Linked DNA regions of Homo sapiens: region 2 is linked to region 1. The links come from fine-mapping of genetic effects on gene expression. A gene starts in region 1. The other region holds a variant in brackets. All regions are shown on one strand. Distances are from middle to middle.

What was found.
Region 2: its variant is fine-mapped to the expression of FAM131A in whole blood (TOPMed, PIP 0.99).

The regions. Positions count from the first base shown.
Region 1 is chr3:184,332,654-184,345,102 of GRCh38, reverse strand. FAM131A (family with sequence similarity 131 member A) reads right to left here and starts at 7,503. Exons shown (of 6, transcript NM_144635.5): 1 at 7,385-7,503; 2 at 6,574-6,716; 3 at 3,286-3,379; 4 at 2,855-3,037; 5 at 2,243-2,359; 6 at 1-608. The coding sequence starts at 7,472. The coding sequence ends at 133. EIF4G1 (eukaryotic translation initiation factor 4 gamma 1) reads right to left here. Exons shown (of 33, transcript NM_198241.3): 33 at 9,750-10,376. The coding sequence ends at 10,195. RefSeq lists enhancers at 1-254, 255-1,007, 4,179-4,258, 6,350-6,961, 10,270-10,419 and silencers at 8,760-8,829, 8,753-8,953, 8,870-9,299.
Region 2 is chr3:184,306,814-184,318,946 of GRCh38, reverse strand. It overlaps EIF4G1 (eukaryotic translation initiation factor 4 gamma 1), which reads right to left and starts at 4,341. Exons shown (of 33, transcript NM_198241.3): 1 at 4,273-4,341; 2 at 3,402-3,458; 3 at 3,091-3,184; 4 at 2,729-2,815; 5 at 1,450-1,626; 6 at 1,131-1,230. The coding sequence starts at 3,150. PSMD2 (proteasome 26S subunit ubiquitin receptor, non-ATPase 2) reads right to left here. Exons shown (of 21, transcript NM_002808.5): 16 at 12,113-12,133; 17 at 11,422-11,590; 18 at 11,239-11,333; 19 at 10,931-11,057; 20 at 10,380-10,498; 21 at 9,897-10,239. The coding sequence ends at 10,057. RefSeq lists enhancers at 3,072-3,693, 4,418-4,918 and silencers at 3,531-4,240, 4,261-4,590. The variant C/T (reference allele first, on the strand shown) is at 4,347.

The DNA of each region.
Region 1 (12,449 bases):
GAGAAGCGAGCGCTCCCAGGAGCCCTCTAGGCTGTGGAGCTCTGCTGGGAGCCTTGAGCCCACACTTGGGCACAGAGGCTCTGCCCCTGGCAGCAGCCGGGGGATGCATGCCACTGCCAGGCATGATGTGGGTCACTGTTCCTCTGGCTCTGCCTCATCCTCATCTAAGGACACCACCCCAGAAGAGGCCAGGTCAGAGGCTTGCCGCTGCCGTTCCCAGCTGCCCGTTAGTGGTGGGCAGAGTGGCTGGCAGTCCTTGCAGGGGGCTGGCTCCTCCTCCGCGGGGGAAAGGCAGGACTCTGTGAGGGGCGAGTTGTAGAGTGAGTCCTGGGCCTCCAGTGGGCCCAGGCTGCGGAAGGCACTTTCCCGGCTGGGGGGCAGTTTGGCGAGAAGCAGCTCATCGCCCAGCAGCTGGGAGGCCAGCCGGGCCGGGGAGCCCAACAACCCATCCTCCAGGCTGCACAGACTAGAGCACAGGGTGTCTGGGGACACGGTCTGTGAGCAGTCGCTCTCAGGCTCCACGGAGCCCTGGCGCACAGGCCGGGAGAACCGGTGGCCGGTGAACAGGTCCTGGAGGTGCGGCCCCAGGGGCAGCTGCCCAGCCATGTCTGTGAGGAGAAGAGAAAAGAAGACAGTCCTGCTGGCTCCATTTCAACTGGACAACCTGGAAGCCACATTCACCCCACTCCACCCCTGGCATAGCTCTAGGGGTGGATAGGTGCTGGGTAACCTTGAACCAGTCACAACTTTTTGAGACCTCAGTGTCCTTAATGGTGAGTTGGAGATTCTAACAATACAAGAACAAGAGTCTCGCACACAGGTGGGTGCGGTGGCTCACGCCTGTAATCCCAGCACTTTGGGAGGCCGAGGCAGGTGGATCACCTGAGGTCAGGAGTTCGAGACCAGCCTGACCAACATGGAGAAACCCTGTCTCTACTAAAAACACAAAATTAGCCGGGCGTGGTGGCACATCCCTATAATCCCAGCTACTCGGGAGGCTGAGGCAGGAGAATCACTTGAACCTGGGAGGCGGAGGTTGCAGTGAGCCGAGATCGTGCCATTGCACTCCAGCTTGGGCAACAAGAGTGAAACTCCGTCTCAAAAAAAAAGTCTGGCACACAGTTAACAAGCAGTAAATGCAGGGTCACCGCCTATGGCCATACAGGTTGCTCATCGCACAACAGGGCCTGTCCAAGGCAGTGAGAAATAGCAAAATCTAACCCATACTCTGCTCACCAAGCAGCATGCCCTGGCCTGCCAGAGAAAGGCTGTGCCTGCCAGAGAAAGGGGTGCCTTTTTCTAATTTGCACAAAGATTCCACACAGGCTAGTAGCAGCCTTGGATAAATGTTAGTTATTATCATTACCCCAGGGGTCAAAGTAGGCCTGGAACTCAATCAAACAAAAATGCTTGTGGTTTAAGGTTCCATCTTGGCTTCAGACAACCAAATCAGCCCTCCAGACCACAGCAGCAGTCTCCAACCTGCTCTCATGTATTGCCTGCTTTGGAGAACTTGTTAATTCACTGGAGGGGTATGGGATGGTAGAGGTAATCTTCAAAGGCAAAGAGGTTGTGGGGAATGGTGGCCTGTGAGACTTGAGCCCAGAAGCTACAGAGAAAGTCAGCCATGTGGTCTAGGGAATGAAAGATGAAAGGAGGGCCGAACACAGCTGCAGAGCCCTGCAGGGTCCCCTCTGCAAGCACTGGCCCAGAGAAAGGCCCACGGGCTGGAATGCAAGGATGCTGAGTTGGAGCCAGCATGGCCCCGTGGGTGTTCCAGGCCCAGCATGCCTTCCTGTTGACCTGGGCTGCAGCCCTGCGAGGTGCTGGGCTGTGCACTGCAGCTCATCTGCCCTGCCACAGCCAGCCAGAAGGCTGCCTCGGAGAGGAAGAGGCAAAGGCACTGCAGACCCTCCCAGAGACATGGCTGCACAGAAGGTGTCCTTGAGGTCTTTCGGCTTTTTTTTTTTTTTTTTTTTTGAGGACTGCAAGGCACAACTGTGCAGACAGGCAGAGAAGCCTCAGCACCTGTGGGAAAGGAACGAATCCATTTCTGTCTGCTCATTTCCCACCCATGAGTGTGGACAGCCTTCCTGTCCCTGGAGTGTCCAGGCCTGCCTGGACTGAGTCTGTCCCTCTCCCTCCCCTTGCAAAGGCTGAGAGTGTTCTGGATGTGGCTCTGAAAGAATGCCAAGGTCTATCAGGTGGGTCCACCACAGCCCTAGCCCAGGATGTCCCTCACCTGTGTCCATTCCCCCAGCAAAGTCCTCATCATAGGAGTCATCAGTGGAGTCCTCGCCATCCACCGAAGACCATGCTCGGAGCTTGGCTTCCGCGATGGCAAACTGCTCAGCCACTCCTGTCGCAGGGACAGAATGCATAAGCAGAGAAGGTGAGCTAAGTCTAGGGCTCAGCTTGAAGACAGGAGAGAGGAGAAACAGGGTATGGGAAGACTCCAACCCCCATGTCAGACCCGAGGAGATAAGAAAGCAGCCCTGGCCGGGTGTGGTGGCTTATGCCTGTAATCCCAGCACTTTGGGAGGCCGAGGCAGGTGGATCACTAGGTCAGGAGTTCAAGACCAGCCTGGCCTAGACGGTGAAACCCCATCTCTACTAAAACTACAAAAATTAGCCAGGCACGGTGGCAGGCAACTGTAATCCCAGCTACTTGGGAGGCTGAGGCAGGAGAATCGCTTGAACTGGGGTGGCAGAGGTTGCAGTGAGCTGAGATTGCATCACTGCACTCCAGCCTGGGCGACAGAGTGAGACTCCGTCTCAAAAAAAAATTAAATAAAATAAAGAAAGAAAGCAGCCCTGTGCCAAGAGTGTAGCTTATCCCCTTTCTGCCATCCACCTGCTGCAAAGCGAGCCTCTTGTTCGCCCTCGCTGAGGTCTGAATAGGAGGAAAAGGCTGATTCCAGGGCAGCAGGTGAGTCACTCGGCTTGCTCCAGCCCTTCCACTCAATGAGGTGAGCCACTCGGCCCTGGGCCATGGCGGTAGGCTTGGTCACGTGGTCCTTCACCACCTGGGAAATACCTGGAGATAGGGGAGGGTGGAGAAGCCTGGTAAAGGACCAGGCCAGGGAGCACAGGTGCAGGGAGGTGGAAGGGTGGCAGTAGTTAGGATCCATGTGAACCTTTGGGTGGGAGAAGGGGCTGAGATTCACCTGAGCAAGGGAAGAAAGGGGAGACCCCAGCATGTACTCACAGGAAACAGTTCCAAAGGGATGTGCAAACGGGAGGAGAAAGGACAAAGTGGCCAGAAACATGGGAGGGGCTGCATACCATGCAGGGAGGACCTGGCCAGCGCAGCGATCTCCTGGATAGTTAGGGCTCGCCGGGACTTGGGCAGCATCGCGACTGTGTCTCCAACATTCACCTTGGGTAACACCATTAGAAAGTCAGTGCCCCTCTGACAGCAATGACCTTCCCCCTAACATGCCCATACCCAGCAAAGGCATGAGGAGGAGACAGGAGCTAGGAAGGAACACCACATATGTCCCAGTGGCTACAGGGAAATGTAAGATGATAAGAAGCTAGGACAGGTGAATTATGTCCTCCCAGAAAGCAATGGAGATTCAGACAGGCCCCGAGAAGCAAAACTTCAGCTAATCCTCCACTTTCCCAGCACCCAGAGGAGATGGAGGCAGGGCAGGAAATGAAGAACCACGAGTGAGACCTCTGAGGAGAGGGAAGAGGAGGAAGGAAGAAGAGTGTGGCATCCAGGACTTCTTTAAGATTCCCTTCCCCTCTGCCCCTTGCTCCTCCTCTTGGTCTTCCCATCCACATTCCGGCAGACTCGGCAAGATGGAAACCAAACCCCCACACCTTCTCCCCACGTCTGGCCCTGCTTCCTGACCTCTTTCCTTTGCATCACCCACCACTGTCCCATCTAGCCTGGCTCCAAACCTCAGCATTACCATCAATTCTCCCCTGGCTTTGCTTGCCCATATCTGTTGATAAGACCTAATGATTCCACCTGCAAAGTCCCTGCTCCTACCCTGTCCTTTCTACTGCTACTGCCATTGCCCTTTCTCAAGCCCTCAATGCCTCCTGCCCAGGTCGGCAGAAGTGGTGTTCCCCCAGCCTCCTCCAATCCCATGCTATTTTCTCAGGCCAAAGTGTAGTGAGTGTAGTGCTCCCCATCTCTTCTGGACTATTCTGATGGCTGGCTAGCTCTTTCTCATTCTTCCAGTTTGGGCTGAAATACCACCTCGTCAGAGGAGCTTTCCTGGCCCCCCTCTTGGTAGTCTGTCCTCCCTCTGTAGTCTCTTAACAAATCACTCTCCATCAACGTACCCCATTTGTGGCCCTTAGTCATAGTGAGTAATAATGGTCTCTTTTGCATTTCCTGTTTCTTGTTGGTCTCCCTCACTGGTCTTTGGCTCTTGGGGAATTCAGTCTGTTTTGGTCACTGTAGTGCCCAATGTTTAGCACAGCACCTAATACAGAATAATTTCTTAAAAATGCATAGGCTGGCCAGGCGTCAGTGGCTCATGCCTGTAATCCCAGCACTTTGGGAGGCCGAGGTGAGCGGATCATGAGGTCACGAGTTCAAGACCAGCCTGGCCAACATGGTGAAACCCCGTCTCTACTAAAAATACAAAAATTAGCTGGGCATGGTGGCACGTTCCTGTAATCCCAGCTACTCAGGAGGCTGAGGCAAGAAAATTGCTTGAACCAGGACCCGGGAGGCGGAGGTTGCGGTGAGCCGAGATCGCACCACTGCACTCCAGCTTAGGCTACGGTGCAAGACTCCATCTCAAAAAAAAAAAAAAAAAAAAAAAATGCATAGGCTGGGCCAGGCGTGGTGGCTCACGCCTGTAATTCCAGCACTTTGGGAGGCCAAGGGGCCAAGGTGGGTAGATCATCTGAGGTCAGGAGTTTGAGACCAGCCAGGCCAACATGGTGAAACCCCATCTCCACTAAAAATAATTTAAAAAATGGGCAGGGCATGGTGGCGGGTGCCTGTTATCCCAGCTACTCAGGAGGCTGAGGCAGGAGAATTGCTTGAACCCAGGAGGCGGAGATTGCAGTGAGCCAAGATTGTGCCACTGCACTCCAGCCTGGGCGACAGAAAAAGACTCTGTCTCAAAAACAAGCAAACAAAAATGCAAAGGCTGGATGAATGAGGTAAGATATAATGTAAACAGTTTTCCTGGAGTGCAGCTGGTCACAACACATCTCTAAAATCTTGTCTAGCCTACGCTACTGTCCAGTGAGGTTAGTGCAGGCATCATACCCAGGCCCTGAAGGATCCCACTCTGTGACACCCTTGCCTCCTTCCAAGCCTCCTTTGAATCCACTGCTGATCTCCTCTGCCCAATAAAACCCCCCTTCTCAGGCCGGGCGCAGTGGCTCACGCCTGTAATCCCAGCATTTTGGGAGGCCGAAGCAGGCGGATCACCTGAGGTCGGGAGTTGGAGACCAGCCTGGCCAACATGGTGAAACCCCGCCTCTACTAAAAATACAAAATCAGCCGGGCGTGGCAGCGCATGCCTGTAATCCCAGCTACTCTGGAGGCTGAGGCAGGATAATCGCTTGAACCCCAGAGGCAGAGGCTGCGGTGAGCCGAGATCGCACCATTGCATTCCAGCCTGGGCAACAAGAGCGAAACTCCGTCTCAAATAAATAAATACATAAAAATAAATAACAAAAAACAAAAACCCTTCTCCACCAATCCCTGTCAGCAAGCAGCCCGCCTGCCTCCAGGAAAAGGAACTCAGCTTTCCTCTGGGCCAAGAATGCCATCCTTACGTGAAAAAATGCTTGCCATCACTTAAGGCCCATCTCAAGTGTCACCTGCAAATAATGCTTTCAGCCGACAGCCTCTTCTTTTCTCTGACACACCCCGCCCCCATCATTGCCCTTGTCTGTCTCCCGAGGGAGCTCAGGATGGCAAGGCCTAAGTCTGATGCACGTAAGTTCCTAACTCCACCCTGTACCTGGCTCAGGGCTCCCTGACAAGCCCCAGCAAATGTTTCCCTCACTTAATGAAGTTGGAGGCACACATCCCTCCCCGGCATTGCCCAGCTCTCTTCTATCACGTTCCCGTCCCTCACAAGGGCAGCCAACACTGCCCCTTGACCTGAGGCCCACCCTCGATCCCTCCCCTTGGGTACCTGGCTGACAGGGCCCCCAGGGTGGCGCCAGTAGCCTCCAGCCAGGCCTAGGCGGGGGAGCACCTGCTGGGTGTTTCTTAGCTTGCTCTCCCTCCCTCGCTTCGCTCCCCTCAGCCGCCGCCATCCGTGCCCGGCGCTCCGCGCAGCTGCGGCCCAGGCCCAGAGAAAAGGTGTATGTCTCCCTGGCAACCCATCACCACGCAACAGGGTCTCCCGGGATACGGCCCGGGATGCGCTGACGTCAGCGCGGAAGGCGCGAGCTCTCCGCCTGCTGGCACAGCGCCGAGCAGAGCAGACCGGCACGGGGGCGGCCTCCCGGCCCGCCGCCGGATAGCGCCTCCGCCCGCCGGAAAAGGGAGCCAGAAGCTGGCTGGCCAGGCGTGGGTGGGGGCTGCAGATCCCCTTTATATGGATGACGTCCTCCTTCCCCCCACCACCAGGGGCCCAGCACCTCTGGCAAGTCCTGACTGTCCACCGAGGAAGGGCGGGAGGACCTGCTCCAGCCTCGGAGGGTTCGAGCAGATCCCAAAGAGGATAGAGAGAGACCCCGAGGAAGTTCGATCCACTCCACAGCCCAAGCGGGGTCCGAGGACACTGAGAGGAAGGGGAAAGGCTGTTGAGCTGTGCCCCTACTTCTGCAGAGATCCCCATTTTCATCCAGTATTGCCGTATCATTTCTCGGCCCCTCCCCCACCTTCCAGAAGACCAGCGCCCACTGAGTGCTCTCCTCAACTCTAAAAGCCCCCATCCCACACATCACTGACCCTCGGGCCCCTGGGGCCATTCTGTGGCAGCCCACTTGCCACCTTCCTGCTCTGGATAAATTTTGCCTCAAAACCCTAGGGTGAAACCAAACAATGATAAATTCTGACTCTCCTTCCCGTTTCCCAGCCTACCCATTCCTCTTGGAAAGCACACTGAGTTCTTCCGCCATCACTGTCCCCCCCACCACCGCCACCCTGGACCCTTTGCAGGAGGGTTGCCTTCCTTCTCTCTTCCTGCTGCCTTCTTTCCTCTCGCCAGCCTCAGCTGGTCCACAGCTCTTTACTCTTCTTTTCTGACGAACTCATGATATTTTTTCTGATTTTCACCCCTGTCCCCTGAAGCCGTTTCCTGATGCCCTGTCTGGCCCCAGCCTGGTTCTCCCTGTTTCAGCCTGGTTCTTAATATCTAAGCCAGAGTAATTTTCCTTTTCCACCTAAGCACCCTACTGCTCAGCTTCCCATCATCTCCCAGATCACATCCATGATCCCTGGTCTCACCTCTGCGACTTGTCTGACAAGTCCATCGTCCTCCAGGCCCTTCACGCTGCCACAGAAACATTTTGCCCAGCACAGAAATCATAGGCATGCTGGCTGTGTTGATGCAGAGAACCAAAAGCCCAGAACCGCTCCAGGCTCAGCTCCCAGTTCTATTCCTGTTTTGGCTCCGGATGCTGAGCCAGTCCCCTCCCCATTTGGAACCTGTGCCTAGTCACATAAGGAGAACATTCCTGCCTCATGGCTCTGAGGAGGTGGGAACACCAGGGCTCAGCCAAGCTCTCTGGGACTCGGGGAGCTGAGGCCCATTCCCTAGACAGTGCCAACAGGCAATGTACATCACAACTGACCTTTAGCTGGAGCAGCCGTCTCTATCCCTGAGCCTCGGCCAGCTGTTGGTCCCCAGAAATGCTACCAACCAGAAGGAAAACAGGAGGTTACAGGCCATCCCTGGCCCCCAACTGGTACCTAACCAGGGCTCTCGAGGCCAGTCCTGAGGTCAGCCAAACTCACCCCTGACAAGAGAAGGTGATGACTTCCTGAACTCCAAGCCTTGATAGGGCCAGAGAGATCAGAGCAGTCAGCTGCTCCTCAGCTTCAAAAGCCACGAGGTTAACTTAGGACTACAAATCCCAGAATTCCTCAAGGGAAGTACAAATCTCAGCCAGTCTTAGCTCCAAAGAACATCAAGTACCAACCACACCAAGGCCTGTGTGACTGACCACCTGCCCTGAAGGTCCAGGACCCATCCCAAACCCAGTCCTGCCTTGCCTTATGCGTGGAGAAATCCACCACACCGGAGTAAAGGAAGCTGGCCGACCTCTGATGCACAGGACTACGGCCAGGCCCGGTGTGCATGGCCACCCACGGAAACCGAGGCCCAGGCAGGGGTCAGCACTGTGGGAAGGAAGCCCTGATGGCCTGCCTCTGGGTTCCTCTTTCCCTCCACAGAGTAGAGTGATTTGTTTTTGCTGAGTGGGGGCAGGACATTAAAACAACTGTAATAGGTGAGAGGTGATTCAGTGTTCACAGGTGCCCCAAACGGGACCTCAGTCCCCCTTCGCCGACTGACTGAAGAGGGGAGTCAATGTCCGACAAAAATTCTGTGGTAGGGTGCTTAGCCAGGACCGAAAGGCTACCTCTTTAAGAAGATGGGGACACGGCTGGGAGAAGCAGGTTCCCAGCACAGGGCCACTCCCAGGACTGTGAAGGCAGAGGTGTAGGCGGAGGGGAGTGTGTGTGTGGGCGCGCAAGGCCAGTCGCCGAGGGCTGGAGTGGTGGGGGCATCGGGCTGCCCAGCCCCTCCCGGGGCTGTGCGTCTCCGGCCACCCTGAGCAGTGGGCACACGGCAGCCAGCGGCGAGACCATGCGTCTGCCCTGCAAAACCCCAAGGCAGGCAGGCCGTGGGAGCGAACCGGAGTCGGTCTGGCCCCTTCCCTGCTCATTCCCGCTCCCTCCTGTTGCCTGGCCCGCCTCCCGGTGCAGGCTCCTCCCTCTCCCGACACCGGCCCCCTCCTCAAGGCCCCCACCCACCCGCGGCCCGCGCACCGGCGGCCGCAGCCCGACTCCCCAACCCGTACCCGGCCTCCGCCTCTTACCCTGACCCGCCGGGCTCCGAGAGCCGATACAGCCCATGGCCGGGCACCCAGGCACGCTAGCCTGCGCTCGGGGCGCGGGCCATCGCCTTGCAGAGGGTAGGGTCGCGGCCACACTGGGGAGGGGAGAGCCCGTGAGAGGGGAGGGGTGGGAGCCGCGCGTCCGCCGCCGCTCCCCGGAGAGGGAACCGGGCCGGTGACGTAAGCGCGGGGGCGTGACCGCCGCGTCACCACCCAAAGTAGGCGGGGCGCAGCGACGTCACAGCCACGCAGAGGCGGCCTGGACCGGGTTCGAAAATGCCGGTCCTCTCCTCCCAGAGCCGACTGCCACCTGAAGGCAGGGGCGGCGAACACTCACTAAGCCAGCCCAGTCACACTACACGGGGTCGCAAAACCTCCCTTCATGCATCCAGCCCCTTCATTTTACAGATGACACCTTCAAGCCATAAAGGGATTCTCCAGCTATAAACAACCCGAAACCCAAAAGCCTTCCCCACACAGGGGCTTGAATCATTCTGGTAGGAGAGCAGAGCCTAGCAAGGATGTCCTATCACTAATCTCCCTTTTCTCCGGACCAGGAAGGCACCTATCAAGCCCATCTGAGGGCCCAACCTTCCAGGAAACCTCAGATCCCTGCAATCATGGACAGGGGAAGAGGCAGGAGGGGTGCCAGGTTACAGGGAACAGCGCTACAGTACCAGCTCTGGGAAGGATCCCCACCTATAAACACCTTCTCTAGAGGGAGCAGGGCATAAAGCAGAAAGGCAGTGAGCTTAATTGAATTCATGTTTAATAATTACAGGCACCGTGCCCCCCCTTCCCCCTGCCCAGGCAACAGCAGGGGTGGTACAGGGGCTGGGGCATATGCCCCCAGCAGCGAGGACGGCAGTCCCGAGAGTGATTTTCAGAAAATAAAAAAAAGGACCCCAGGGGCAGGCGTTGGTGCCCCTCCCCACCCCAAGACACACCAAATTTCAAGACTTTATATATAATATATCTCTGTGCCCCAGGGGGAGGAGAGGGACACCTGGCGGCATCCTGGAGGGGGGCCCAGGCAGCCCCAAGCCATCCTGCCTCTTCAGCCACTTTATTAGTTCAGACACATCACACTACAGGCACCCACTGCCACCGCCGCTGCTGCCGCCCCCCTGCAGTCCAGGCGGCTAGCCGGGCCATCTGTGTGTCCATGGGGCTCCAGGTCCCCGGCCCCACCAGCCCTCAGTTGTGGTCAGACTCCTCCTCTGCTTCACGGAGCCACTTGAAGAAGGCTGTGACAGATTTAAGGGCCACACCCTTGCCCTGCTGCTCAGCGGGGTCCTTGCTACTCTCCCAACTGTAGAAGGCATCCTCCTTCACCACGTCCTCGTCATACAGTGCGTCAAAGAACATCCGCAGCAGGTCTGCAAGCAGGCGGGACAGCAGTTAGAGGTGACTGGCCACCGCCACCCCAGCCCACCCCAGGGAACCCTCCCAAGTTCCACTGTTCAAACAAGGCCCTGATGCACCAGCCTGACATTTGTGGCCATTCCAGAGTGACTAGGCCTCTGACAGGATGCTAATCTCATGATCTGAGACTGCTGCACAGCAATGAGTCACTTGGCCATCAGAAAAACCTTACAAACTTGCTTGGCCTCACCTTGGCAGCCTGAAACCTCTCTGCCCATGATGTATTTAATGGAGAAAACTATATTCAGAATTGGTACTCCTGAATTCAGGAAATCGCTAAAAGTCCTATATATATCATACATAAAGTCCTATATATATCCTACATGTAACCTGAACATTCACTGCCCCCCAAACAGATCCTGACAACTCCTGATCTCAATTTCCCTTCCTTCCCCACACATTTCCTGTACATACACACCTTCTCTGGCCTTGACACTTTTGTGGATGCTATATCCTTTGCCGGAAACTTCCTCGTGTCTTGTTCCTTCAGGACTCAACTCAAGCATCACCTGTTCGGGCCCTCTTTCTCCTCAACCCCTAGCTGCTGGGTAGCCTTCCCAAGCAACGTGTCCTATAACCCCTGAAACACAACCGACCCCAGTGCCCACAAGGCACCACCAGTCTTTCCAAACCAAACCTTACACTTCTAAGCCATCTATGAGATGCTGCCAGCCAGGATGTTCTGCAGGGCATGCCCAGCCTCAAAGTCACAAACTGCCTAGGGGCACAGTCACCTGCTACCCCCACCCCATAGCAATGGGCCATAGCAGGGCAGAACCTTCACTTAACCCGTACCTACACTCCAAATCCCACACATACCCACCCAGGGACCCCATCCAATCGATTATGCACTCTGCCCTGTATTTTCAAGCCCAAGTTTCTCTAACCTAAAAACAAAAAGCCCTGTTTTCAACCACTATCTTACAGCTAATAAAATATTTTGTCTACACTTGATGTTTTCCCTTCTTTCTGTCTCACTTAAGTATTTCTCAGTCCTTTCCAATCCAGAATCTGTCCCCTGCCCCACTAAATACTGTTTTTGCCAGGGTGGCCTCTATGTTTTTATATTCCAAACATCCTGCATTTTCAGGCCCACTCCTACAAACGCTCACAGCAGCATCTGGCATTATCAACCACATCCCTCTCCTCAAATTTCTCTGTCCTTGGTTCAGAGGGGCCTGTCCTCCTTTGGTCCCTACCAGTATGTCCGCTCTACCTCCTTGGGGCTGTATCTCAGGCCCTTATCACTCTCCCTCAGGCAAGCCCGTATCCTCTTATGACTTGCACATGAGTTACCCTGTGCCGGCATTTCACAAAGCTGCCTCCTGCCCTGATCTCTTCTTTTCCAAAAGGACCCAGATACCCCAGCTATTGAGCTGACATCTCGATTCCCTTACTCAAGGACCACAACTCAACTTGATCCACCGTTGCCTACCCCAGCAAATGACATCACACTATGGCCTCTAAGCCCACTGTGATTTAAAAACCATCCTGGGAGTCATCCATGACTTCTAATCTCTCACGGCCCCCTCCCCAGACCAGTGTAACCAAAAGCTGCCAACTCCATTTCCTAAGTATCTCTTGATCTGCCTACTCCTCTCCACCATCACCAGCAAGGCTGAGCCACTGGTGCTAACACTGCCACATCCACTCTCACCCCATTCCAAACCACTCTTCCCTCTATTGCCAAGATGATCTAAAAACTAAAATCAAATTCCTTTATTCCTTGCTTAAAATCCCACAAAGGCGTTTTCTTGCCCCCAGGCTAAAGCCCCAGACTCTGGCCATGGCTTACACCCGGCCCTGTGTGGTCAGGCCCACATCCCTCTCTTCGGCCCCATCTTGCCTCACTTAGGACTGGTTGCTGTGCTCTCCCACACTGGCCTTTCTTTAATAGTTCTTTTCCCTGTGTCAAGTTCTTCCTACCATAGGTAGAAAGAACACACATAGTGCCTTCGCTTCAAACATTCTCCCCCTCCCCTTCCCAGTTGTTGTGGAGTGAATTACCACTCATTACCCCTCAGACC
Region 2 (12,133 bases), 26 kb after region 1:
GTGCATCACCAGGCCTAATTTTTGTATTTTTAGTTGAGACAGGGCCAGGCGTGGTGGCTCACGCCTATAATCTCAGCACTTTGGGAGGCTGAGGCAGGTGGATCACTTGAGGCCAGGAGTTCGAGACCAGCCTGGTCAACATGATGAAACACCATCTCTACTAAAAACACAAAAATTAGCTGGGTGTGGTGGCACACGCCTGTAATCCCAGCTACTCGGGAGGCTGAGGCAGGAGAATCACTTGAACCCAAGAGGCGGAGGCTGCAGAGAGCCAAGACTGTGCGACTACATTCCAGCCTGGGTGACAGAGCGAGACTCCGTCTCAAAAAGAAAATTAAAATAATAACAATAAAATTTAGTAGAGACGGAGCTTCACTATGTTGGCCAGGCTGGTCTCGAACACCTGACCTCAAGTGATCCGCCTGTCTTGGCCTCCCAAAGTGCTGGGACTACAGGCGTGAGCCACCGTGCTCAGCCCCCCTCAAATTTTAAAATAGAGACAGGGTCTCACTAAGTTTCCCAGGCTGGTCTCAAACTCCTGGCCTTAAGCAGTCCTCCTGACTCCCAAAGTGCTGGGATTACAAGCAAGATCCGGGCACATTCTTTAATTTCATCCCTAAATTCCACTTGTTTTTGACAAGCACAAGTGTATTTGTTTAAATTTTGCATACATATAAACAAAAACATACATGTATGAGAGATTCATACTCAAAACTTTTCCTGATAGGTGATCAAAAAACTTGGAAGCCACTGCCATAAAGAACAGACTAATCCTTCCCTAGAACATAAATAAAAAATAGCTACAAAAACCTCCCAAATTTGCATTACATGGGCTCCCAACCATGGAAGAAGTGTCACAGGGAAAGCCTACTAATAGGCTCTCAGGCTGGTGCCTGATCCTACATTCCCTGATGTGGGAAAGACTCTTAACTCTCCTGGCAATAAAATCAAATTTTCTCCCCACAATCAACACCAGTTAAATATTAAGCACCAATCCCTACCACCTATTAACCTTATCATTTTTAGACCAGAAGCCAAGCCTGGGAAGGGTCTTCTGCTTTAGAAATCAGCAGATGAGTTTAGATGCTCCCTTGGGCTTGTTCTCACCTCTGACTCCCTCCCCTGCTTACCGTAGGTCCCAAATTCTGTAGGGCTTGCACCTGGATAGAAGCCTGGGGCTCCTGGCTGCACAGGGTACTGCTGTGTCGGGACAACGTATGTGGAACGCCCCTGGTGGGGAAGGGGGAGAGGGAGAGAAGGAGTTGAGGGAGCTATGAGTTCCATATCAGACTCCAAAAAGAACATAGGTCAAGACAAGACAAGCCAACTCTGGGCAATGACCAGAAGGAAGTCCCACCTCTGGAAAAGCAATGGAACTGGAGGGTCAGGGTGAGTTAAGTGAGAGGTATAGGGGTCTGTGGCTTCTAGGCTCCAAGCCCCCAGCCTCACCTGTCCAGGGATGTAGTAGGCCCCCTGGGAGGCTGGGTAGGAGATCTGGGAAGGGATCATCATTACTTGGGATCCAGCAGGGTAGACATGGGCAGCTGGGCCAGGGCGGGCAGGGGCTGCACTCTGCACTCGGGAGGCTGCACTGCTCGGGGGCTGGGCCCGGCTAGGGTAGAAGTGCTGTCAGGAGGGAGGAAAGCAGTTGGCATTGTAAAGAGAAGGAAGTGGACAAAAAATTGCCACTCCACAATGTCTCTATAGCCTGGAAAGAAGTACTGTGGGCTTCAGAACATGGCGACCAATCCTTCCAAGACCACTTGACCAAATGGCTAAGCGGCTTCTTGTACACACACATGCCCTCCAAACCTCCAAATTCAGATGTACACTTTGCATCCTGCAGAGATTTACTCTCTCACTGCCATGCATACACACGTCACCTCTACCAAACTACCCCTCTGCAGAGGCTTCCTAACACCGAGATGCATCATGCCTAAGTAAGGCCCTTTCGGGCAACATATCCCCAGCATGCACTGCTCCACCAGCATGTAATGAGGAGCTAACCATAACATGCAACAGCATCCCAGTCCCCAGATGCGCGTTCTTCAAGATGTAGCCCCTAACATGCATCACTCGGCCTCCAACTGAGAACCTGGACACCAAACAAGTCACTACCCTGAAGATCCCCATTCCCTGTGTCTAGCCCCTGACTAGGGTGGAGGGTAAGGATGAGACCAGAAGACTGTCCAGGGTTGGGAAAGGGATATTACCTGCAGAGACCTGAATCCTCCCTGAGAGCACATGGGGATAGGAAAGAAGAGAATTACCCCCAAGGTGATGGCGGGGGGAGGGAATGAAGGCAATAAGACAGGACAAGAATCCTCCCACTTAGTAAGGAAGAAGCTGGGGAACAGAGAAAGGCAAGGACCAGCTGGAGTGTTTACCTCACCACAGTCCAAAGAGAAAGCAGAGAGAGCAATAGAGCAATAGCAGCCTCCGGTAAAAGGAGCAAATAGGAAAGCAAGAGCTGGCAGCAGGGCCCAAAGCACTGCCCCCAATTCTCAGAGGCACTAGGATCCCAGTAATGCCACCCTCATTGACAACATACTATCCAAGGGACCAGCCACCGTGAGTAATCAACAGGGCAAGGCGCAGAGCCGCATGAAAGAACACAGAGGATTAAGGCCAGGTATGGGGCCTCCAGTTTCCATCCTAGACCTAAACTGGCCAAAGCTTTCCACTGCTCCCACCCAGGTCCCCTACTCCCCTCCCCACAGCCCCTCACCTGGCGGGGCTGAGAAGGCGTGTTCATTTGTGTCGCTTGTGGCGTACTGAACACCACCGGCGCTGTCTGCCCCGGGGGAAACGCTGGCTGAAGAGGGGAGACCAGAGTTCAGCAAGAGGGGAAGCCCAGGTGGGGCAGAAACCCAAGCTGGTGAAATAAGGGGAGCAGATCTGCGGCAAGAGCCTTAACAATCCACATACCCCCTCCCCGTGACAGCCCCCGGGGACAGCCCAGGGGCCCTGTCTCAATTTGGCAGCAGGCGGCTGCACTTTGCCCTGACACAGATGGGGGTAGGAAGATCCAGAGGCTGGAGACTGCCTGGTCTCCCCCACCCCCACCCCTGCTAATTCCTCCCTAATTACCTGTGGGAGTCCGGGGGATGGGGCGGGTGGGGGGCCTGTGGACTGTGGAGCTTTGTTCATTTCATTTGGTGCCACATCAGGGTCCCCCCAGCACCTGTTGGGAAAGAGTGGCGCTCAGGAAGAGGAAGGGACCCAAGCTTAAGGCAAATGGGGCGGTGAAAGGGTTGATGCAAGGGCTGGGTCCCATACGGAGTCCCAGAGATGCCAAGAGGGTGAAGCAGAAAAGATACAGCCTGTCCCCACCAACATGCTGTCAAACCCGCATCACTTCCAACCAACCCCTGACCTACTGAAACAGACCCCTCACTCACCCCCTCGATTAAGAACAAGTCCACGGTGCGGCCTACAGGTTCTGGGCATCCGAGGGCCTGGGGTTGGGAGGTGAGGGTATCAACCTGGCTCCGCGGGGCCCCAGACCAACCAGACCGGAAATTCCAGGTCTCGCTGGCACCAGGCTCCCGGATCACGAACGGAGCTAGCTGCTTCGGCCGTGGCGTCCCCACCCCCCACCCGGGGACACCGGGTTCGGGCCTGGCCCAGGGGCACACAGGATACGCCTGCCGCCGGGGAACCCGCACTGGGCCAGAAGCTAGGCCTGCCGCCGCCCAGGAGTGTAGGCCAGGAAGGGCGGGAGTCAGGCCCTAAAAGGCCAGGCGGGCGGCGGCCGTCGAGGAGCCGGTTTCAGGCAAGTGAGGGTCGGCCCGGAGGGCGGGCGGGGCCGGGGGCTCCTCCCTGCCCGCCGCCACCGCCTCCCTCCCCTGCGCCCTCCCTGCGCAGCGCGGGCCAGTGCCAAAGAACAACGTGTCACTTCCCGGCGGCCTGGCCGCGAAGGGGGGAGGGGGCGGCGGGCCGGGAGCCGTGGTGCCTGCGCCCGTGGGCTGCCGGGCCTCCTCGGGTCAGGCCGAGGTGGCATTTCGCGGCGACGAACCCGGCGCCCTACCAGCCCGCGGGGCCCGCATAGTCCGGCCCTGCGCTCCCCACCCCCACCCAGCAGCCAGGCCCGGCCGGGCCAGGCACACGTGGGCCGGGGATCGGGACCCTGGCGGGCCGGGGCCCTGGGTCGGGCCGCGGGGCCAGGGCGCCGGGGCGGCGGCGCAGGGTGGCCGGTCCCGGCCCGGATGGCGGCGGATGCGGGGGGAGGGGGTGGGGGGGCCGGGTCGGGCCCGGACATGGCGGCTTTACCTTCAGTCTCCTTCAGTCCGCGCGGCCGAGCCCCACGCAGCCGCACAGACGTAGTCCACAACCATTTCCGGCTC[C/T]CCGCACAGATCCCGCTCGGCGGCCACCGCTTCTCCGCAGGCGCAGCCGGCGCCCCCACGTGACCGGCGCAGGGGGCGGAGCCGCGCCGGGCGATCTGCGCCGCCGAGCACATGGGATTTGCCCCCGCCCCGTCACGTGACAGCCACAGCCCGCCCCCGTGTCCCCTCCCGAACTTTGAAACTCCCAGACCGATTCCCCTCTGTGTTTCTCTCTGTTCCGCGATTCTTTAGTTCATTCATATTTTAAGCAACCATTTATTGAGTGCATGCTAAGTACAAGGCGAAGTGCTGGTTGAGGGCTGAGAAACTGAAATCAAAGTCTCGGCAAAAAAAAAAAAAAAATAAGCGGGGCGCGGTGGCTCACACCTTAATCCCAGTACTTTGGGAGGCCGAGGTGGGCGGATCACGAGGTCAAGAGATCGAGACCATCCTGGCCAACATGGTGAAACCCCGTCTTTACTAAAAATACAAAAATTAGCCGGGCGTGGTGGCGCACCCGTAGTCCCAGCTACTTGGGAGGCTGAGGCAGGAGAATTGTTTGAGCCCGGGAGGCAGAGGTTGCAGTGAGCGGAGATTGTGCCACTGCACTCTAGCCTAGCCTGGCGACAGGGCGAGACTCCATCTCAAAAAAAAAAAAGAAAGAAATTAAAGACTCCGTCCTGCCTAAGTAAATCGTGATACAATACGAATTATGCAGGCTTTGAAAATAATTTAGATTAGGTCATTGAAAGGCCAATAACAAAGGAAATTAAAAGGATAGAAACATTCTAATTAGGCAAGTAGTATGAGATTTGTAGTTTAAAAAGATCATGGGCCGGGCGCAGTGGCTCACGCCTGTAATCCCAGCACTTTGGGAGGCCGAGGCGGGCGGATCACGGGGTCAGGAGATCTAGACCATCCTGGCCAACATGGTGAAACCCCGTCTCTACTAAAATACAAAAAATTAGCTGGGCCTGGTGGCGCACGCCTGTAGTCCTAGCTACTCGGTAGGCAGAGGCAGAGAATTGCTTGAACCCGGGAGGCGGAGGTTGCAGTGAGCCGAAATTACGCCACTGCACTCTAGCCTGGCGACAGGGTGAGACTCCATCTCAAAAAAAAAAAAAAAGAAAGAAAAAAAGAAATTAAAGACTCAGTCCTGCCTAAGTAAATCGTGATACAACACGAATTATGCAGGCTTTGAAAAGAATTTAGATTAGGTCCTTGAAAGGCCTATAACAAAGGAAATTAAAAGGATAGAAACATTCTAACTAGGCAAGTAGTATGAGATTTGTCGTTTAAAAAGTTAGAAACATTCTAACTAGGCAAGTAGTATGAGATTTGTCGTTTAAAAGGATCATGGGCCGGGCGCGGTGGTTCACGCCTGTAATCCCAGCACTTTGGAAGGCCGAGGCGGGCGGATCACGGGGTCAGGGCGGATCACGGGGTCACCATCCTGGCCAACATGGTGAAACCCCCATCTCTACTAAAATACAAAAAATTAGACGGGTCTGGTGGCGTGCGCCTGTAGTCCCAGCCACTCAGGAGGCAGAGGCAGAAAACTGCTTGAACCCGGGAGGCAGAGCTTGCAGTGAGCCAAGATTGCGCCACTGCACTCTAGCCTGGATGACAGTGAGACTCTGTCTCAAAAAATAAAAATAAAAATAAAAAATAAAGGCAGGCACGGTGGCTCACGCCTGTAATTCCAGCACTTTGGGAGGCCAAGGCAGGCAGATCACCTGAAGTCAGGAGTTCGAGAGCACCCTGGCCAACATGGTGAAACCTCATCTCTACTATAAATAGAAAAATCAGCCAGATGTGGTGGCAAGCACCTGTAGTCCCAGCTAGTGGAGAGGCTAAGGCAGGAGAATCGCTTGAACCTGGGAGTTGGAGGCTGCAGTGACCTGAGATCACAACTGCATTCCAGCCTGGGCAACAGAGTGAGACTCTGTTTCAAATAAATAAATAAATAAATGAAATAAAATATAAAAAGAGCAGACACTCCCACGGAGGGGCAAAAGCGTAAGGATGGAAGAATAAGGACAGAAGAGAAGTAATCTTAAAACTGACAGCCGGTCGGGGGCGGTGGCTCACGCCTGTAATCCCAGTATTTTGGGAGGCTGAGGCAGGCGGATCACCTGAGATCGGGAGTTTGAGACCAGCCTGACCAACATAGAGAAACCCCGTCTCTACTAAAAATATACAAAAATTAGCCAGGCATGGTTGCGCATGCCTATAATCGCAGCTACTCAGGAGGCTGAGGCAGGAGAATTGCTTGAACCCGGGAGGTGGAGCTTGCGGTGAGCTGAGATCCTGCCATTGCACTCCAGCCTGGGCAACATGAGCGAAACTCCGTCTCAAAAAAAAAAAGAAAAAGCTGACAGAGGCCAGAAGGGACCATCATCTACAGCCAAATCCACAGGTCAGATTGCTTGAGTTTTCATCCAAACTCTGATACTTATTACCTGGCCAGAATTTGTTAACTTTCCCTACTCAATCAAGTCCCCCAAATATATTGTTGCTTACGTAATAGATAGTGCCTAACCTGAAAATCTGGGATTCATCCTATATTCCTTCTCCATCCACACACTACATCTAATCAGACACCAGGTCTTACTGGTATTTGGATCAAAATCAAGTCCTATTGATCTTATCTTTTAAAAAATAACTATTCTACCCTTCCCTATGTCCCCATTTCAACTGCCTTAGTTCAAGCATTCATTTTCCTTGCCTGCTCTCCTGTCCTCCAGGGTTAGCTTTCTCACCCAGATAGCTGATCATGTCACTTTTCTGCTCTCATTCAGTGGGCCCCATTGAAAGATACTGTCAAATTCTTAGCACAACAAAGCTCTTGTAAACCTAGTCTGAGCCTGAATTTCCAGCTGTATCTCCTACCACCCTTTTCCCTGGCCCCTATACATTTAGCCAAACCAAATTATCTGTAAGTTTCTGAAAACAGCTTTTCCTCCTTCTTGCCTTTGCTACTCCCTTAGCTATATTCTGCCCTCTTTTCCTCTGTACAAACTTATCTTCCTCTAAGGATATAAGCTTCCTCAAAGTCCCCCGATTGCCCCAGGCACTTAGGCCCCATCTCAGTGATACCAGGGTACCTTGTTCACACCCTGGTAAGTATCGATCACAGTTGTTTTCATCATTTCATTAAACTTTTTGAGCATAGGGGTTTTTTTCTGTATTTGCATCCCCATAAATTAGACGAATGTCTGATGCAGAGTAAGGCTCCACTGCTATTCACTGATGAATGAAGAACTAAAGGTGAAAGGTTAAAAGCCACTATGAAACTGTCTTATTCTAAAGCACAATCACCTAAATCACAATTTGGGAGAGAATCATTCTTTTTAGTTTACAAATCACTTTTTATTCTAACATCACCACCACTGGAAATCAGGTAAGGCAACTACTATATCCACATTATATAATAACAGAGGCTCATCACATCACACATGCTAACTTGAAGATTATGGCAGGAACCATAAAGGGGCTCAACAGGGATTCCTTAATCCTGTTTCAACCTTTTTATACAGGCTGCCAAGATGACTCAATCCAAAATTGCTGATGTCTCATGCCTGTAATCCCAGCTACCTGAGAGGCTGATGTGGGAGAATCACTTAAGCCTAGAAGTTCAAGGCTGCAGTGAGCCATGATCATGCCACTGCACTCCAGCCTGGGCCACAAAGTGAGACTTTGTCTCTAAAAAAATTTAGTAATAAAATAACTGGGCCAGGTGTGGTGGCTTACACCTGTAATCCCAGCACTTTGGGAGGCCGAGGCAGGTGGATCACAAGGTCAGATCGAGACCATCCTGGCCAACATGGTGAAACCCCGTCTCTACTAAAAATACAAAAATTAGCAGAGCATGGTGGCGCATGCCTGTAGTCCCAGCTACTCAGGAGGCTGAGGCAGACAGTCTCTTGAACCCCAGACGCAGAGTGAGCCGAGATCACGCCACTGCACTCCAGCCTGGGCAACAGAGCACGACTCTGTCTCAAAATAAATAAATAAATAAATAGCCAGGCATACTGGCTCATGCCTGTGATCCCAGCACTTTGGGAGCTGAGGTGGAAGGATCCCTTGAGGCCAAGAGATTGAGACCAGCGTGGGCAACACAGCAAAACCCCCACCTCCACAAAAATAAAAGTAGGCCAGCTGTGGTGGGTCATGCCTATAGTCCTAGTTACTACTTGGGAGGCTGAGTCAGGAGGATCACTTGAGTCCAGGAGTTTGAGGCTACAGTGAGCTATGACTGTGCCACTGCACTCCAGACTGAGTGATAAGAGTGAGACCATTTCAAAAAAAAAAAAAAAAAGCCAGAAGTGGTGGTACACACCTGTAGCCCTACCTTACCTGCTTGGGAGGCTGAGGGTCAAGCCTTCTTGAATCCACTTTCTACAAGGACATCCTAGAAGTAGATGTTAACATGATCAAATTCCTCATAGCAGCCTCCCAAGAGGGACAGATGGTTGCGGGAGGTAAAGATGTCCTTTTCATTCAGTAGCACGTAAGTCAAGTTAGAAAAGTATGAGGCTGCCCACTCTTGGGCATCCTTAGCCCAAGGTCAGAAGATGATAGGCTTGAAGAGGGTGTATTGGTGGTGGAGGGTGAGTGTGGGGGGTTATTTACAGGATCCACAAGCCCCCTGAAGTTATTTGGAAGAGTTTGTGTAAAAATTTGTGTATTTGCGTCTCCTAGGAAGAATATCCATTGGCTGGGCACGGTGGCTCACACCTGTAATCCCAGCACTTTGGGAGGCCGAGGCAGGTGGATCATCTGAGGTCAGGAGTTCGAGACCATCCTGGCCAACATGGTGAAACCCCGTCTATTAAAAATACAAAAATTTGCCGGGTGCGGTGGCTCACGCCTATAATCCCAGCACTTTGGGAGGTTGAGGCAGGCGGATCACAAGGTCAGGAGATCGAGACCATCCTGGCTAACATGGTGAAACCCCGTCTCTACTAAAAATATGAAAAATTAGCCAGGCGTGGTGGCAGGTGCCTGTAATCCCAGCTACTCGGGAGGCTGAGGTAGGAGAATGGCGTGAACCCGGGAGGTGGAGCTTGCAGTGAGCCAAGATCGCACCACTGCACTCCAGCCTGGATGACACAGCGAGACTCCATCTCAAAAAAACAAAAACAAAAAACAAAAATTAGCCGGGCGTGGTGGCAGGCACCTGTAGTCCCAGCTACTTGGGAGGCTGAGGCAGGAGAATGGCGTGAACCCGGAAGGCAGGCGTTGCAGTGAGCCGAGACTGCCTCACTGCACTCCAGCCTGGGGGAGACAGCAAGACTCTGTCTCAAACAAAACAAAACAAAACAAAAAGAAGATCCATTACATTTATTGGCTTCTCAAGGGTTCTAAGAAAATGCAAAGAGAAGATGATTAGAAAGGAGGGGCTTAGTTTTTTCCACCCAGGGGAGGGAAGGGGCTCAGTTCTTTCCATCCAGGGCAGTGCTGCTAACCTAAACTCAGCGTTGCTCCTAACAATGCCCTCTCACTTCCACTCCTTACTCTAGTTTAGACTCCAGCCATGACACCCCAGAAAACAGACACAGAGAGACCTTGGGGATAAAAGTCTTTATTGAACAACCTTATCTCACTCAGTAACAAAAGAGCAGGAGGCGACAATTCCCCCAGAAGTCTGCAGCCGTGTCCACCCTTGGCAGCAGGATGCATGGCCTGCTGATAACATCAGCTGCAGTTCAGAGCCCCTGGTGGTCACTTAGAGATCATAATTGGGGTTCTTCCGAAGGATAACAAAACCTTCCAGAATGGGGGTAACAGGAAGAAACTCCTCAGTGGCCAATTCTGCCCGTTCCCCGTGGGCCAACAACACTGGGGTTGTATGCGTCTGGAACCCTGTGATAGTCTTCGGCTTGCCAGCCTGGCCCACCACATCCACTGCCTGTAGGGTAAGAAAATTGAAAAGAGAGATGGAAAAGTAGCGACAAGCCACCGCCCACGCCAGTTTCAGCAAAGCAAGTATATGTACATTCTCCAGTTTGAGAATACAGCCTGAGCCCTCCCCTCTACTCAGCCTCTCACCTGGCCCACACGGACAGACACTGGCAATGGCCGCAGCTCCTCATCAAACGTAACCAGCATTCGGGGCTGCATGGCAGCCACCAGCCCATACAATACATAGTGTGATTTGCCTAGAATAACTGAGGGAAGCAGACAGGACAAAAAGTTAAGAGACAAAAAGACAGGCCTGGCCAGAAACATTGAGAGCCCACCTCAGCGCTGACCCTTTAACCCGTCAGTCATACGACTGAATCCACACTCCTCCCCTCATACACCCTACTACGAACCAGAGACGCCCCCACCTCACTTTGCTTACAGCCCTTAGACTTGAAAATCGCATTTCCCCAGTGACTTAGGAGCAGACGCTGGGCACATCACCCTCAAATCTCTTTGGGCCAGATCAAAAGTGTGGGTGATGAAAGTCTCATGTCACAGGCCCAAAGCCTGTCTCAGAAACCTAGAGCGATACAGAGCTAAACTGGGGTCTTGAACCTAAATTATCAAAGTGGCCCTGGAAAGGGTGGAGTCAGAGCCCTGCATGCTATGATATAAAATTTCTGACAGGAACTCACTGTTTCGAACATCCAGGAAAGAGACAAGCACAGTGAGCAGTCCAGCCACGGCCACCTGGCTCATAAGCTGCCGGTCGCTGTGGTAGGGGCAGAGGGTAAGGGTGCCCTTCCCTAAATGTGTCAGGCCCTGAAAAAAACAGAGGGAAGTAGAGGTGAGGAGTTACCACTGAGGAGACATCGCCTAACCCAGCCAAACAGAAATCTCCCACTTGGTCACATCTTTCCTCCTGGGCCAACACTCCATGTTCCTCCTTCCATCACCACAGATACTTCCCCGGCACGCTCTGTGGAGGAGTTCTATTCTTTACCTGTGCCAAGCGCACCATGAAGAGGTTGTTTGGGTCCTTGGCATGATATTGAGCTAACTGGCGCAGCATTGCAGCCAGACGGGCATTATTGGTACCTGGAAATGTTAAGCATTACAGAAGTGAAAAAAGGGGCTTCAAATCTTCCCCCAATCTGTTTATGACCTTCTTCTGCCGGATACTCACCACTGCCCACCATGCCCATGGCAAAAATGGAGTTATAGGAAACTTCTGGATCAGCATCATGAGAGAATTTGCTTAGGGTATCCAGGATGTTGAGTCGTGGATTTGAAACAGAGATGAGGGCCAGTGCTAAAGGTACAGCCCTCCGGAGTGTAGGCTCCCCATATCTCAGCTGATGATCCAAGAAAATACAACAGTAAGGCGGAATGCAGTAAAAACAAATTCCATTACAGGAGTGGACTGATGGGTAAAAGGGGGCCTTAACTTCTGTAGAAAAGGCACAGCAGGCTGGGCATGGTGGCTCATGCCTGTAATCCCAGCACTTTGGGAGGCCGAGGCAGGTGGATCATGAGGTCAAGAGATAGAGACCATCCTAGCCAACATGGTAAAACCCTGTCTCTACTAAAAATACAAAAATTAGCTGGGCATGGTGGCATGTGCCTGTAGTCCCAGCTACTTGTGAGGCTGAGGCAGGAGAATCACCTGAACCCGGGAGGCAGAGGTTGCAGTGGGCCAAGACCGTGCCATTGCACTCTAGAGCAAAACTCCGCTTCAAAAAAGAAAAGAAAAAAGAAAGAAAAGGCACAGCAAAAAGACCAGCTCTCCACCAAGAAAACCCATCAGAAAAATCTTCCCTGGGGAACCCCAGGCCATCAAAACCAGTATATTCCAATTTTCTTCATGCTATACTCACCAAGTGGCCAAAGGTTCGTAA